Linked DNA regions of Homo sapiens: region 2 is linked to region 1. The links come from fine-mapping of genetic effects on gene expression. Tissue or cell type: sun-exposed skin. Region 1 holds a variant in brackets; the other region holds the start of a gene. All regions are shown on one strand. Distances are from middle to middle.

Region 1 (8,102 bases):
CAACCTCGACCTCCCAGGCTCAATCAGCCTGCCCATCTAGCTTCCCAAGTAGCTGGCACCACAGGTGTGCACCACCATGCCTGGCTAATTTTTGCATTTTTTGGAGAGACAGGGTCATGCCATGTTGCCCAGGCTGGTCTTGAGCTGCTGGACTCAAGTTATGTGCCTGCCTTAGCCTCCCAAAGTGCTGTGTTTACAGGTATGAACCACCACGCTTGGCTTTGTCTTGTTCCTTATGAGAAGGTTTTTAACTCCAGTTGAAATTTCTTTGATAGATATAGTCATTCAGGTTATCTATTTTTTGTGAGATTTGGTAGTTTGTATCATTCGAATAATTTTTGCATGTCATCTAAATTTTCAACTGATTGGCATAAACTTGTCCATGGTATTTTCTTATTATCCTTTTTATTTATTTATTTATTTATTTATTCATTTTTAAATTTATTTATTTAAGATGGAGTTTCACTCTTGTCACCCATGCTGGAGTGCAATGGCACAATCTTGGCTCATTGCAACCTCCACCTCCCGGGTAAAGGTGATTCTCCTACCTCAGCCTCCTGAGTAGCTGGGATTACAGGCACACACCACCATGCCCGGCTAATTTTTGTATTTTTAGTAGAGATGGGATTTCACCATGTTGGCCAGGATGGTCTGAAACTCCTGACCTCAGGTGATCTGCCCACCTCAGCCTCCCAAAGTGCTGGGATTACAGGCGTGAGCCACTGTAACTGGCCTCTTTTTTTTTTTAGACAGAGTCTCGCTCTGTCACTCAGGCTGGAGTGCAGTGGCGCGATCTCGCTCACTGCAAGCTCTGCCTCCCGGGTTCACACCATTCTCCTGCCGCAGCCTCCCAAGTAGCTGGGACTACAGGTGCCCGCCACTACACCCGGCTAATTTTTTGTATTTTTAGTAGAGATGGGGTTTCACCGTGTTAGCCAGGATGGTCTCAATCTCCTGACCTTGTGATCCGCCCACCTCGGCCTCCCAAAGTGCTGGGATTACAGGTGTGAGCCACCGCCCCTGGCCCTCCTTCATGATTTTCTATCTGCTGGTTTTATCCATTATTGAGAAACAGATGACAAAAATCTCAACTAAGGTTGTGGTTTGTTTATTCTCGCAGTTCTATCAGTTCTTGCTTCATGTATTCTGAAGCTCTGTTATTAGGTGAACACATGCTTAAGATGGTTATATCATCTTTATGGATGACCCTTTGTCATTATGGAATGGCCTTCTTTACTATCCTATTATTTGATCTGAAATCTATTCCGATAATCATATAGATAAAATAATTATAGACATACCAGCTCTCTTTCCTTTTTACATACTTTCACTTTTAATCTATTTATGTCTCTGTATTTAAACTTGGGTTCTTGTAGACAGCATTTATGTGGTTCTTGCTTTCATATCCAATCTGAAAATCTCTGCCTTTTATGTTATTTTATTTATTTATTTAATTTTTTGAGATGGAGTCTTGCTCTGTCACTCAGGCTGGAGTGCAGTGGCACGATCCCGTCTCACTGCAACCTCCACCTCCCGGGTTCAAGCGATTCTCCTGCCTCAGCCTCCCGAGTAGCTGGGATTATAGGTGCACACCACCATGCCTGGCTTATATTTGTATTTTTTTAGTAGAGACAAGATTTCACCATGTTGGTCAGGCTGGTCTCAAACTCCTGACCTCAGGTGATCCACCCGCCTCGGCCTCCCAAAGTGCTGGGATTACAGGCATGAGCCACTGCATCCAGCCCAAATCTCTGCCTTTTAATTGGATTGTTTAGAACATTTACATTTAATGTGATTAAGATATTGTTGGATTTAAATTAACCACCTTCTATTTATTTATTTATTTATTTATTTATTTTTATTTATTTATTTCAAGATGGAGTCTCGCTCTGTTGCCCAGGCTGGAGTGCAGTGGTGCAATCTCTGCTCACTGCAACCTTCATCTCCCAGGTTCAAGTGATTCTTGTGCCTCAGCCTCCTGAGTAGCTGGGCATGCGTCACCACACCCGGCTAATTTTTGTATTTTTAGTAAAGATGGAGTTTTACTATGTTGACCAGGCTGGTCTCAAACCCCTGACCTCAAGAGATCTGCCAGCCTCGGGCTCCCAAAGTGCTGGGATTATAGGCATGAGCCATCACACCCGGCCGGCTGTTTATTTATTTGATCTGAAATCTATTCTGAAATCTATTTATTTATTTATTTATTTATTTATTGAGATGGAGTTTTGCTCTTGTTTCCCAGGCTGGAGTGCAGTGGTGCCATCTTGGCTCACTGCAACCTCTGCCTCCTGGTTCAAGCGATTCTCCTGCCTTAGCCTCCCAAGTAGTTGAATTACAGGCATGCATCACCACACCCGGCTAATTTTGTATTTTTAGTAGAGACGGAATTTCTCCATGTTGGTCAGGCTGGTCTTGTACTCCCGACCTCAGGTGATCCACCTGCCTCAGCCTTCCAAAGTGCTGGGATTACAGGTGTAAGCCACCATGCCTAGCCTTTATTTTTTAATTGTTTCATATGTTTTTCCTTGTATCTTTTTTTTTTTCTGACTTCTTTTGAATTAATTGGGTTTTTTTTTATGATTCTAGCTTATGTCCTTTGTTGATTTTTTAAGCTATATCCCTTTGCTGTGTTATTTTAGTGCTTAATTTAGGTATCATTCATTGCATTACTTTTCTGTTGCTACCCAAAACATTAAACCGATCTTGGTAATGTAAAACACAAATTTATTATTTTAGAATTTTCATGAGTCAGGGGTTCAGGGTCTCACAAGTGTGGGGCTTGGGTCTCATCTGTGTTTTAGTGTCTTCTTCCAAGCTCATGTGGCTGGTGGCAGAATTTATTTCCTTGCCACTGTAGACTGCATGGTGGCTTGCTTCTTCAAGACCATCAGGAGAGTCTCTGATGCAAGTATCTGACCTTTTTTTAAAAAAGCTTATCTGTTTAGGTTACACTCATGCAGCATAATTTCCCTTTTGATGATCTCAAAGTCAACTGATTACAGGCTTTACTTAAACTTGCAAAACTCCCTTCATCTTTGCCAGATAACATCACCTAATCACAGGAGTGACATCCATCATATTCACAGTCCTGCCTATACCTAAGAGGAGAGGGGATTGTATGGGGTGTGTACACCAGGGAGTAGGAATCCAGGGCCATCTTAGAACTCTTCTGACCACCACAGCTTGATCCCAGTCTCCCTCCAGGTGATAGTGAGAGGTGAAGCCAGCTGGACTTCCTGGGTCCAGTGGGGACTTGGAGAACTTTTCTGTGTCTAGCTAAAGGATTGTAAAAGCACCAATCAGCACTCTGTAAAAACGCATCAATCAGTGCTCTGTGTCTAGCTAAAGGATTGTAAAAGCACCAATCAGCACTCTGTAAAAATGCACCAATCAGTGCTCTGTGTCTAGCTAAGGGATTGTAAAAGCACCAATCAGCACTCTGTAAAAATGCACCAATCAACACTATAAAATGGACCAATCAGCACTCTGTAAAATGGACCAATCAGCAGGACATGGGCAGGGACAAATAAGGGAATAAAAGCTGGCCATCCCAGCCAACAGCGGCAACCTGCTGGGGTTCTCTTCCAGCTGTGGAAGCTGAGTTCTTTTGGTCTTCACAATAAATCTTGCGGCTGCTCACTGTTTGGGTCCGCGCCACCTTTAAGAGCTGTAACACTCACCGTGAAGGTCCGCGGCTTCATTCTTGAAGTCAGCGAGACCACAAACCCACCGGAAGGAAGAAACTCCAGACACACCACCTTTAAGAGCTGTGTAACACTCACTGTGAAGGTCCATGGCTTCATTCTTTTTTTTTTTTTTTTTTTTTTTTTTTGAGACGGAGTCTTGCTCTGTTGCCCAGGCTGGAGTTCAGTGGCGCGATCTCGACTCACTGCAAGCTCCACCTCC[C/G]GGGTTCCCGCCATTCTCCTGCCTCAGCCTCCCGTGTAGCTGGGACTACAGGCGCCCGCCACCATGCCCGGCTAATTTTTTTTGTATTTTTAGTAGAGACGGGGTTTCACCGTGTTAGCCAGGATGGTCTCGATCTCCTGACCTCGTGATCCGCCCGTCTCGGCCTCCCAAAGTGCTAGGATTACAGGCGTGAGCCACTGCGCCCGGCCCATGGCTTCATTCTTGAAGTCAGCGAGACCACAAACCAACCGAAGAAACTGTGGTCTCAATAGTGTGCTGCTGCATATATAGCATGAAGACATCCTGCCAGTGGCGTTCATGCTCCACTCAGCCTTGTGTTTGTATCACTTTCCTAGGGCTGCCTTAACAAAGTGTCACAGACTGGGATGGCTTAAAACAACGGAAATGTGTTCTCTCATTTGGAGTTCTGGATCAGGGGCTCATGGGACACATTCCCTCTGAACCCAATAGAACCCTTCCCTGCCTGTTCCCAGCTTCTGGCGGCTTGTTAGAAATCTTCTGCATTCCTTGGCTTGAAGCCGCATCACTCCAGTCTCTGCCCTCAGTGTCACATGGTGCTCTTCCTGTGTGCCCACGTCTTCTAAGGTCATTAGTCATGTTGGATTAGGAGTCCACCCCACCCCACTCCACTCCACTCCAGTGTGGCCTCCTCTTCACTCATTACATTTGCAGTGACCCTATTTCCAAATAAGGCCTCGTTTTGGAGATATTGGAGGTGAGGACTTCAGTCATCTGTTTAGGAGGGACTCAGTCCAACCGACGACAATGCTAGTGTTGTCATACATCTCTTTTCCACATATTTATAAACCCCACACTACAGTATTATTTTTGCTTTAAACACTCAAGTATGTTTTAAAGGCATTTTTTAAGTCTTTTATGTTTACCTGGTAGCTGCCATTTCCTTTGTCCCTGATCCCGGTGGGATTGCAGCCCAGCAGGACTGGCACATCCTGGGGAGGCACTGCCTGACTGCCAGTGATGGGAGGGGCAGAGCCCCAGGCTAGTAGTCCGCAGCCACGTGGGGTTCCTGTTCGTCCTCTTGCTCCTGCATTTAGGACAGGTACCCACCTGGGCGTGACGCATTTCGAGTTTCGTGTGAACAGTGATTGATAGTGCCCTGCGTGGTGATCCCTCCCATTTCTAGTTTTGTGTGAACATTGATTGATAGTGCTGTATGCGGCGATCCCTCTTGGTGTTTCTTTGCAATTGAAATTAAAGGGTTAGTGGGTGAAGAGGGGCACAGGTGGACTTTTCAGGGTCTGGAAATGTTCTGCTTCTCAATCTGGGTGCTGGTGGCCTGGTTCACTTCGGAGATCTCATCTAGCTGCACGCTTCAAGCTTGTGTGCTTTCCAGGATGTAGGTTATACTCCAGTAAAAAGGTAAACAACACAACCACAGCCATGCTGGCTGAAAAGAGAAGCTGGAGGCACCAGGGCCCCTGCTTGTGGCAATGGGTTTGGCCGTTCCTTGGGCAGGAGCCAGGTCCTGGGGTGCTCCCACCGATGGCCAGTCTGGGGCAGCGGCTTTGCTCCTGGCACCTCTGGGCAGGGACCTGGGACTCAGGAGCAATGACATCTCTGAAAGGACTCTGCAAACTGTGAAGTGAGGTACACACATGTCAGACTGCAAATTGTTAAGTACTGTGCACATGTCAGTCTGACTGCAAACCAAAGCATGGTGCACCGGCCAGTTTGTCTTCTGACTGCTTTGGGTCGTGGAGCTCGTCTCAAACAGCAGCAGTGGTGGCACTGGCTTTAGGAAAGAGGCAGCTTTGTGGCTGTCATAAATCTGACAGCAGCGGCCAGGCCACCCTTTCCACCAGCCTGCATGTGCACAGCTGACTTGGAGTCAATCAGACCTGCTCTTTGTCGAACTCAAGCATGCCCTAAATGCTTCTACTTGTTATTACCTCCACAGACTGAGAGTGGCTGGAGAGAGAGGCAGCTGTGCCCGCTGCCTTTTTGTGTAATTGGCTGCTGGCTTTCCCCCCAGAGCTGCTGGTGGATGTGCTACAGGCAGTGTGAGCAGGCCACCGCCTCCCAGGGCTTGGGGTGGCCCTGGCCTGCCCCCGCCTAGCTGGCAGCTCCATCACTGCACTCCACCTTCTCTCTGCCCACTCGCCCGGTCCTTCCTTTCCTTTGTGCTTTTCTTTCTGTTGGTAAAAGTAATAAAAACTCGTTGACGGACGCAAAGCCAGGAATGTAGAGAGGGTAAAGGAGGAAACTGACACCTCTTACTCCCCCAGTTCCACATCATGAGTCTGCTATCATTTAATGTACACGACTTATCTCTGGGTACACGGAGATGTACGTTTTTGTTTTGCAAAGATCCATTCATCCGAAGCATAGTGTGCATTGTTTGGCTTCTCTCCTTCAGTAGCTCAGAGCTTCTTCCTCAGGGTTCCTTTCAGTATTCCTTGAATGGAGAGACCACAGTTTGCATACCTGACGCCCAGTGGCAGGACGCGTCTCCTTCCCAGCCTCTCGGCAGCGTGGGAGCCTCCTCACCCTGGCAGCTGCTGTATTGATCACTGCTTTCTTGCTGGGTTAGCTCCTTAGGGTAATTGCTGGGTCTGAGGTCAAAGGTGTCGGTGCAGGCTGGTGCAGGCTGGCTTCTGCCTTCACGCCCCTGTCCTGGGTTGGTCTGCTCAGCACACCATGGGTTCCCTGGGCTGCTCCACTCCCTGTGCACCACTGGCCCATCCATCGGCCCTTCTCTCCTGAAATGCTGCCCTCTGGGCTTCCAAGCCCCCTCCTGTCCCTGGGCTTCCTGCTGCTCTTACCTCCCACCACCCTCTACTCCCTTCTCCCTGCAGCCTCCCTCATCTCAGACAAGTCACCCAGGTGGGTAACGCACAAACCCCGGGGGCTGAGTGCTCCCTTTATGTCAGCAGTCCCCCTCCTGCATCCAAACATCAACACGGCCCATGCACGCCACCCTCCCAATCTGCGCAGAATGCAGGCACTGGGCTGCATGCCCCTGATTCCAGCTCGATCCAGACCCACGACTCTCCCTCCAGCCCCAGCCCGTTCTTCACTCAGCAGGCAGAGACGCTGCAGGACTATCCCATGGTCATAAACCCGCCTCCTCCCGGCCCCAGGCCCCATGGCCGGGGGCCTCCCTCATCCTGCTTCAGCCCTCAGACCTTGCTGTCCTTGGCTTCCTCCCCACTCCGCTCCTTGGCACCTGCGCCCCTCCCCCCCCAAGAACATTCTCCAGTCCCTTCTGCTGTTGAATTTTAGACCAGCTGTCCCCTCCACATATCAGCCGGGGGTGCATTAGGCCCATTTTACATATAAGGCTGTCTGAGGAAAGTGACGCCCCGGGGTCTCATGGCCAATAAGGACCCCGCCCACATCTGCGCCGTGGTCTGCTGCGTGGAAAGCCGGTGATGAAAGCCAGCAGCAGCTGGTGATGGTGCACTTCAGAGCTGGGGTGTTAGGTTCTTTCTATTTCAAGTGGAGAAACCCACCTCAGACTTAAGGACTCAGAAAACGCATTTGCTTCTGTAAATAAAAAGCCCTGGGATAGCCAGTCACGGTGGCTCACACCTGTAATCCCAGCACTTTGGGGGGCTGAGGCGGGCAGATCACTTGAAGTCAGGAGTTCGAGACCAGCCTGGCCAACATGGTGAAACCCCGTCTCTACTAAAAATACAACAATTAGCCTGGAGTGGTAGTACATGCCTGTAGTCCCAGTTACTTGGGAGACTGAGGCAGGAGAATTGCTTGAATCCAGGAGGCAAAGGCTGCAGTGAGCTGAGATCACGCCACTGTACTCCAGCCTAGGTGGCAGAGTGAGACTCGTCTCAAAAAAAAAAAAAAAAAAAAAAAGCCAGCCGGGTGCAGTGGCTCACACGTGTAATCCCAGCACTTTGGGAGGCTGAGGCAAGCAGATCACGAGGCCAGATAGAGACCATCCTGGCTAACACAGTGAAACCCTGTCTCTACTAAAAATACAAAAAAAAAAAAAAAATTAGCCAGGCTTGGTGGTGCACGCCTGTAGTCCCAGCTACTCAGGAGGCTGAGGCAGGAGAATCACTTGAACCTGGGAGGCGAAAGTTGCGGTGAGCCGAGATCATGCCACTGCACTCCAGCCTGGGCAACAGAGCGAGACTCCACCTCAAAAAGAAAAAAAAAAAAAGCCCAAGGTGGGCTTCAGGCATGGCTGGATG
Region 2 (8,102 bases), 650 kb before region 1:
ACGAGCATTCAGTCCATAACATGGAGTGTCTTAGCTTGGGTTGCTATAACAAATACCATGCCAGCTGGGCGCAGTGGCTCACGCCTGTAATCCCAGCACTTTGGGAGGCCGAGGCGGGCGGATCATGAGGTCAGGAGATCGAGACCATCCTGGCTAACACGGTGAAACCCCATCTCTATTAAAAATACAAAACTTAGCCAGGTGTGGTGGCGCATACCTGTAATCCCAGCTACTCAGGAGGCTGAGGCAGGAGAATCGCTTGAACCCGGGAGGCAGAGGTTGCAGTGAGCCGAGATCGTGCCACTGCGCTCCAGCCTGGGCAATAGAGCGAGACTCCATCTCAAAAAAAAAAAAAAAATACCGTGTCATAGAGTGGTGGAGAAATTTATTTCTCAGTTCTGGGGGTTAGAAGTCTGAGATCGTGGTGCCAGCATGGTCACGTTATGGTGAGGGTCATCTTACAAGTTGCAGATGGCTGCCCTCTTACTGTATCCTCATATGGCAGAAAATCAGCAAGCTAGCTCTCTGTTCTCTTTTTTTTTTTTTTTTTTTGAGACAGAGTTTCACCGTATCGCCCAGGCTGGAGTGCAGTGGCGCAGTCTCAGCTCACTGAAAGCTCTGCCTCCCAGGTTTACACCATTCTCCTGCCTCAGCCTCCTGAGTAGCTGGGACTACAGGCACCCGCTGCCACACCTGGTTAATTTTTTGTATTTTAGTGGAGATGGGGTTTCACCGTGTTAGCCAGGATGGTCTCGATCTCTTGACCTCGTGATCCGCCCACCTCAGCCTCCCAAAGTGCTGGGATTACAGGTGTGAGCCATCTCTGTTCTCTTAGGCAGTCATTCCATTCATGAGGGCTCCACTCTCATGACCTAATTACCTCCCAAAGGCCCCACCTCCAAATAGAGAAATAGATTTCAACATTAATTTTGGGGTGACAGTCCATTCGTAACGGAATGAACCAGGAGACTGCTGACCAGAACATGGAAAGTGCAGCCTTGTAAACAGTCCGTGTGCTCAAGCCTGGCTGACTGTCAGACACAACAACCAAACCCTCACCTTGACCCCCACCCCCAGCCACACTGGAACCTGAACTGAGAGGCCACCCTTTCCCTGCAGGACCAGCTCCTAGAACAGCGGTTCTCAAACTTGAGCAAGTGTCAGAATCACCTGAAGGGCTTTGTTAAAACACAGGCTGCTGGGCCCCAGAGTTTCTGATGCAGGAAGTCTGGGTGGCTGAGAATTTGCATGGTTACAAGTTCCTGGGTGATGCAGATTCTGTGTGTCTGGAGGTAACATTTTGAGAACTGCTGTTTCAGAAGTTCTCCACATTAAAGTCTACCAGTCCTGACTGGTACCTAAGGGGTCATGAGGTAGTCAGTGCACAAGATAGAAAGTGAAAACACTGTCTTAGAATTTAAAACAATACTTCCTAACACCAATAGGTAGCTTTTGATAAAGGAATTATCAAGCATGGCTGTATTCATTTCTTATTGCTGCTGTAACAGATTACTACAATTTGGTGGCTTAAAACAATGTAAATTTATTATCCTAGAGTTTTGGAAATCAGAAATGGAAGCCCAGGCGCAGTGGCTCATGCCTGTAATCTCAGAACTTTGGGAGACCAAGGCAGGAGGACTGCTGGGGCACAGGAGTTTCAGACCAGCCTGGGCAACATAGTGAAACCCCATCTCTACAAAAAATGCAAAAATTAGCCAGGCATGCTGGTGCACCCCTGTAGTCCCGGCTACCTGGGAGGCTGAGGTGGAAGGTTCACTTGAGTCCAGGAAGGTTGAGGCTGCAGTGAGCCATGATTACGCCACTGCACTCCAGCCTGGGTGACAGAACAGACTGTCTCAAAGAAAAAAAGAAATTAGAAGTGAATCTCACTGGGCTAAAATCAAGGAGCCAGCAAGAGTTGTGTTTTTTGTTTTTTGTTTTGAGATGGAGTCTCGCTCTTGTCACCCAGGCTGGAGTGCAATGGTGCGATCTCAGCTCACTGCAACGTCTGCCTCCCAGGTTCAAGCGATTCTGGGGAGGGGAGGAGGAGGGAAGCAAGGAGAGAGGAACGCAGGGAGCAGAGCCTGACCTGGTCACAGGGGTCTGGGAAAGACAGAGGCTTTGTTAGAGCCGGCAGCTGAGGGCCGAGGCCGAGCAGGGGTTAGGCCAGCACAGGACGAAAAGGAAGAAAGTTCCAGGTGGAGTCTGGTGGAGAAAGACCGACCTGGAAGGCACCAGCATGTGCACGTGGCAACTGAGGTCGAGGACGTGCCTGAGAGAGAGGAGGAAGGTGCCCTGCGGACCGGGTAGGGTGCGGAGGTCGGGAATGGAGAACGGTCGTTGGGCAGGTCCGGGTACCCGTAGCCAGAACCACCCGGGTGTGCGCAGCTCGGCCAGGCCCCGCCTCCCGGCGTCCCCGCCCCCTGCTGGGCCTCTCTCCGCAGCCGCGAGACCCGCGCTTGGCGCATAGGCCGGTTCTAATTTACAAGAACACCGCGGCCTGAGGCCGGAGAGTCCCTTCAACCCGGGAGGCGGCGGCTGCAGGGAGCCGAGACGGCGCCATTGCCCTCCAGCCTGGGCAAAAAGAGCGAAACTCCGTCTCAAAAAAAAAAAAACATGGCCGAAACCAGGAAGCTGCGCGATGGCGCCACGGCCCCTCTTCTCCCGGCCTGTGTCCGGAAGGTTTCCCTCCGAGGCGCCCCGGCTCCCGCAAGCGGAGGAGAGGGCGGGACGTGCCGGGGCCGGAGCTCAGAGGCCCTGGGGCCGCTCTGCTCTCCCGCCATCGCAAGGGCGGCGCTGACCTGAGGCCTCCCCGCAAAGGTCCCCGAGGCGGCGGCGGCGGCGGGCTGTGAGAACCGCAGAAGAACGCTGGGCGCGCAGCGACCCGTCCACCCCCGCGAGGAGAGACTTCCACAGAGGCAGCGTTTCCACAGCCCAAAGCCACGTTTCTAGGGTGATGCAGCCCCAGTAAGTTCCTGGCGGGGAAGCTCACGGCTGTCAAAAGAACTCTTCGCTCCAGCCGGCGCACGAAGGGGAGGAGGGCAGGAGGCTGCCGCCCGCACAGGTCATCTGATCACGTCGCCCGCCCTAGTCTGCTTTTGTGAATCTCCACTTTGTTCAACCCCCACCCGCCGTCTCTCCCTCCCTGCGCCTTCCCTCTAACCTTAAAGACCCAGCTACCTCTACGCAAATGGTAGCTACCTCTGCGCAGGTGGAAGTTGAGTTCGGTTCACGCGGGACCCTCTTCCCTGTGGCAAGCTGCTGAAGGAGACCTGCTGTTACTGCTTTAGCTGCTGTTCTGCTTAATCTCAGACAGCTGGAAGGTAGTATTCCGCCCTCGCCCAGCCACCCGAGTAAATGAGAATGATGACTGACTGAGACCCTGATGGTGGTGGCTTAGGCTTAATCTCAGACAGCTGGAAGGTAGTATTCCGCCCTCACCCAGCCACCCGAGTAAATGAGAATGATGACTGACTGAGACCCTGATGGTGGTGGCTTAGGCAAGATGAACGTCTGAAATGGAGGCCCAGGGCTGCCACGATGGCTCTGTAGTCATCAGGGAGGGAGCTCCTTTTATCTTGTTACCTACTCCCCTCTTGTGCCCCTTTCTTCCCTTGATCTAAGAAGGTTGCTCCGGATCTCGCCATCTGGCCTGCGTTCAATCAGCAGAAGCTTCCTGGAGGAGCAGGAGGAGGCACTGTGCTCGCATCACATACCAGTGGCCAGAAGTTGGCTTCAGGGAAGCTCAGGAAATAGGATGCGAGAAGCCATGAGACCTCCCCAAACTCTGCAGTAACAGAGTCAACAAGACAATGGCTTAAAGATGGAGAGACCAGTTGATCGGTCACACAAGCTGTTCCACGATAATTCTTGTGTCAGAAGGGGAGGCTGACTACCAGGACCACTGGCCCCACTTCCAGCCCCTCCATTCTGAGTACACTTCAGAGGGCTCTGGCAGGGTGAGGGGGTCTTGGTGGTGCCACAGAGAGTAAAGGTCTAGCACACCCATTGTGGAGATATTTCATGGGGACAACCCAGTGACTTCACTTGAAGTAAAGTGGGATTTTCCAACCTTGAGATTCTTATTTTCTTTGGTATGCGTGTGGAAGAAGTATGAAGGTGGGGGTTGGGAGGGAGAGCAAATGAGCTGTGTGTATGAGGAGCTGGGGCCTGGCTCTTGACAATATCACCCACCCCCACCCCAGGCTTTCCTTGGGGCAGAAAGACTATGGCCGGGGCTTTCAGTGTCGGCTCCGAGGTATAGAGGTATAACCAGTGCTTTTGGCTAAGTCACGTCACTGATGAGCTTCTCTTTCCACCTTGGCAAACCAATTCTTCTGTAAAATGGTCTTCAAAGTTTCTTTTTTAAAGCAGAGAAACTTATTTTTCAGATAAAAATTTAGATAGAACTATCGGGGGAACCCGATAGGGGCCAGATATCGGGGGAACCCACCCCCAATATTTCAACATAGGTTCTTTCTATTTTCCATAAATGTTGGCCGGCTGAGAAATAAAGAGTACAAAGAGCGGAATTTTACAGCTGGGCCACCGGGGGTGACATCACATATTGGTAGGACCGTGATGCTCACCTGAGCCGTAAAACCAGCAGGTTTTTATTAAGGATTTCAAAAGGGGAGGGAGTGTACGAACAGGGAGTAGGAACAAAGATCATATGCTTCAAAGGGCAAAAGGCAGAACAAAGATCACATGCTTCTGAGGAAACAGGACAAAGGGCAAAAGGCAGAACAAAGATCACATGCCTCTGAGGAAACAGGACAAAGGGCAAAAGGCAGAACAAAGATCACATGCCTCTGAGGAAACAGGACAAAGGGCAAAAGGCAGAACAAAGATCACATGCTTCTGAGGAAACAGGACAAGGGGCAAAAGGCAGAACTCCTGATAAGGGTCTATGTTCAGTGGTGCACGTAGTGTCTTGATAAACACCTTAACAGAAAACAGGGTCTAAGAGCAGAGAACCGGTCTGACCAAAAATTTACCAGGATGGAGTTTCCCAATCCTAATAAGGCTGAGGGTACTGCAGGAGACCAGGACGTATCTCAGTCCTTATCGCTACCGCATAGGACAGACACTCCCAGAGCAGCCATTTATAGACCTACCCCCAGGAATGCATTCCTTTCCCAGGGTCTTAATTATTAATATTCCTTGCTAGGAAAAGAATTCAGCAATATCTTCCCTACTTGCACGTCCATTTATAGGCTCTCTGCAAGAAGAAAAATATGGCTCTTTTTGCCTGACCCCGCAGGCAGTCAGACCTTATGGTTGTCTTCCCTTGTTCCCTAAAAATTGCTGTTATTCTGTTCTTTTTCAAGGTGCACTGATTTCATATTGTTCAAACACACGTTTTATAATCAATTTGTACAGTTAACACAATTATCATAGTGATCCTGAGGTGACATACATGCTCAGCTTATGAAGATAACAGGATTAAGAGATTAAAGTAAAGACAGGCATAAGAAATTATAAAAGCATTATTTGGGAACTGATAAATGTCCATATTAAAATAAAATCTTCACAATTTATGTTCTTCTGCCACAGCTCCAGCTGGTCCTTCCATTCGGGGTCCCTGACTTCCCGCAACATAGAACCCTCAAATAGATGAAGGTGGAGCTTCTTGGGTAGAGACTGGAGGATTGGGGTGTTGCCCACCGGGCCTTACGGACTCTCCTGAGTGATCTGAGTCACCTCCAAAGAGCTAGGTGTCAACTCCAAAACACCCTGTGTCCCTTTCTTCCATTTAGTAATCGAAGCCTTACCACCAGAGGTTTGGCAGGGCACGTTGAAGGGGTGGGTTGCCCCTCCACACCTGTGGGTGTTTCTCGTTAGGTGGAACGAGAGACTTGGAAAAGAAAAAGACACAGAGACAAAGTATAGAGAAAGAAATAAGGGGGCCCGGGGAACCAGCGTTCAGCATATGGAGGATCCCGCCAGCCTCTGAGTTCCCTTAGTATTTATTGATCATTTGTGGGTGTTTCTCCGAGAGGGGGATGTGTCAGGGTCACAAGACAATAGCGGGGAGAGAGTCAGCAGACAAACACGTGAACAAAGGTCTTTGCATCATAGACAAGGTAAAGAATCAAGTGCTGTGCTTTTAGATATGCATACACATAAACATCTCAATGCTTTACAAAGCAGTATTGCTGCCCGCATGTCCCACCTCCAGCCCTAAGGCGGTTTTTCCCTATCTCAGTAGATGGAACGTAAATTGGGTTTTATACCGAGACATTCCATTGCCCAGGGACGGGCAGGAGACAGATGCCTTCCTCTTGTCTCAACTGCAAGAGGCATGCCTTCCTCTTATACTAATCCTCCTCAGCACAGACCCTTTACGGGTGTCGGGCTGGGGGACGGTCAGGTCTTTCCCTTCCCATGAGGCCATATTGCAGACTATCACATGGGGAGAAACCTTGGACAATACCTGGCTTTCCTCAGCAGAGGTCCCTGCGGCCTTCCGCAGTGTTTGTGTCCCTGGGTACTTGAGATTAGGGAGTGGTGATGACTCTTAAGGAGCATGCTGCCTTCAAGCATCTGTTTAACAAAGCACACCCTGCACAGCCCTTAATCCATTTAACCCTGAGTTGACACAGCACACGTTTCAGGGAGCACAGGGTTGGGGGTAAGGTCACAGATTAACAGAATCTCAAGGCAGAATTTTTCTTAGTACAGAACAGAATGGAGTCTCCTACGTCTACTTCTTTCTATACAGACACAGTAACAATCTGATCTCTCTTTCTTTTCCCCACAGCACGTGCCCAGCTTCCTTTCAAGTCTCTGGCCAATGCAATGTGAGCAGAAGTGAAGGGGCAACTTTCAGGTGATGACTTGGAAAAGAAAGCTTAGTCCTCTGCTTCTCCTGTCACCCGAAAGAGAAACAGAGGCTTGTCTTGTTGAAGCCAGTGTGTTTGGTGTCTTTTTGTATAGTGGCTTAGACAGTGGCCTAACTAGAAGACCAAGGCTCAAAGGAACACATTTTGAGCTTCTCCACAGTTTGAGAACCTCTACATTACCTACACCAAGCCTTCCCCAGCACTCAATTTATGGAAGACCATTTCTCTTCTCATGACACATGTCCTCATGTTGCTTTGGCCTGTTTTAAAGCTTTCTCAACTCCATCTCAATAAAGAAATCTGCAGCTTTGTTGGATGAGAGGATCTAAAAAGTTCGTTCTTCCAATCGGTTGTAAATATAGACACTAATTTATAAACTGACACAGGAACACACAGCAAATTAGTAGAAAATCCGATTCCTGTTCCCTTTTCTCCTTGCATTGTTTCCTGCCAATGCTCACCATTTCTTTATCCTTTCCACTCTTCCTTGCTCCTCCTTCCCTTTAATTTTTCTCTGTTGTGCCTAAATAAGCTGTCCATGCATGGCACTCCATGGGCTCTGATAACAGACTCAACAAGACAATGACTTAAAGATGGAGTGACCAGCTGATCAGTCACACAAGTTGTTCCAGTGTAATTATTTTCACAGGTGTCTCAGTTTGGATGATAAATTATATGAACACTCTACTTACAGAACAAAGACCTTTATTTATGTCTCTCTTGCTTCAAAGTCCAAGGTGAGCATGCCTGCCTGGCAGCTCTGCCTCAATTCCTTTTAAATCATTCCTTTGTCATACTTCAGCACACTGCTGTCATCTGTATGGTTGAGCTGGACTGCTGCCATGTTGAGTCACCAGTGACTTTTTGATTCTTTAATTCCCAGTTTGACTGGCATTCCTCTGTGTGTGTGTATTTAGTTCTATGCAGTTTTATCACATGTGTAGGCTTGTGTAACCACTGCCACAGCCAAGATACAGAACAGCCAAGTTTGTTTTTGTTCACTGTCATCTCTCCAAAACCTAGTGCAATGCCTGGCAAAAAGACACTCAGTACATACTTGTTGATGGGGGAATGAATGAATGAATGGTGTGCTAATTGGGGTTTTAAGATGCAAAACCCAAGCAGTGTAAGTGAGGTACATGTGGCGGTCTAGAGGTAGGACCAGCAGGATAGCTGTGCCGTCTATCTCTGGGCCAGGCAACTGCTGCAGTCCTACCATGTCCCCAGCAGATGGGCAGGGGAAAGGCAGGGCCCAGT

The links. PIP is the estimated chance that this variant, and not a neighbour inherited with it, causes the effect.
Region 2: it holds the start of LINC00847, and the variant in region 1 is fine-mapped to the expression of LINC00847 in sun-exposed skin (GTEx, PIP 0.96).

What each region holds. Positions count from the first base shown.
Region 1 is chr5:180,177,935-180,186,036 of GRCh38, reverse strand. The region is part of intron 1 of RASGEF1C (RasGEF domain family member 1C); the gene reads left to right. Among named protein-coding and RNA genes, the nearest start is that of RASGEF1C, 27 kb to the left of the region's middle. The variant C/G (reference allele first, on the strand shown) is at 3,907.
Region 2 is chr5:180,825,929-180,834,030 of GRCh38, reverse strand. LINC00847 (long intergenic non-protein coding RNA 847) reads right to left here and starts at 3,074. Exons shown (of 3, transcript NR_045679.1): 1 at 2,802-3,074; 2 at 1,171-1,358. HEIH (hepatocellular carcinoma up-regulated EZH2-associated long non-coding RNA) reads left to right here and starts at 2,413. Exons shown (of 1, transcript NR_045680.1): 1 at 2,413-4,077. It also overlaps a transcript of ZFP62 not described here. RefSeq lists silencers at 1,699-1,868, 2,309-2,438, 2,799-2,848.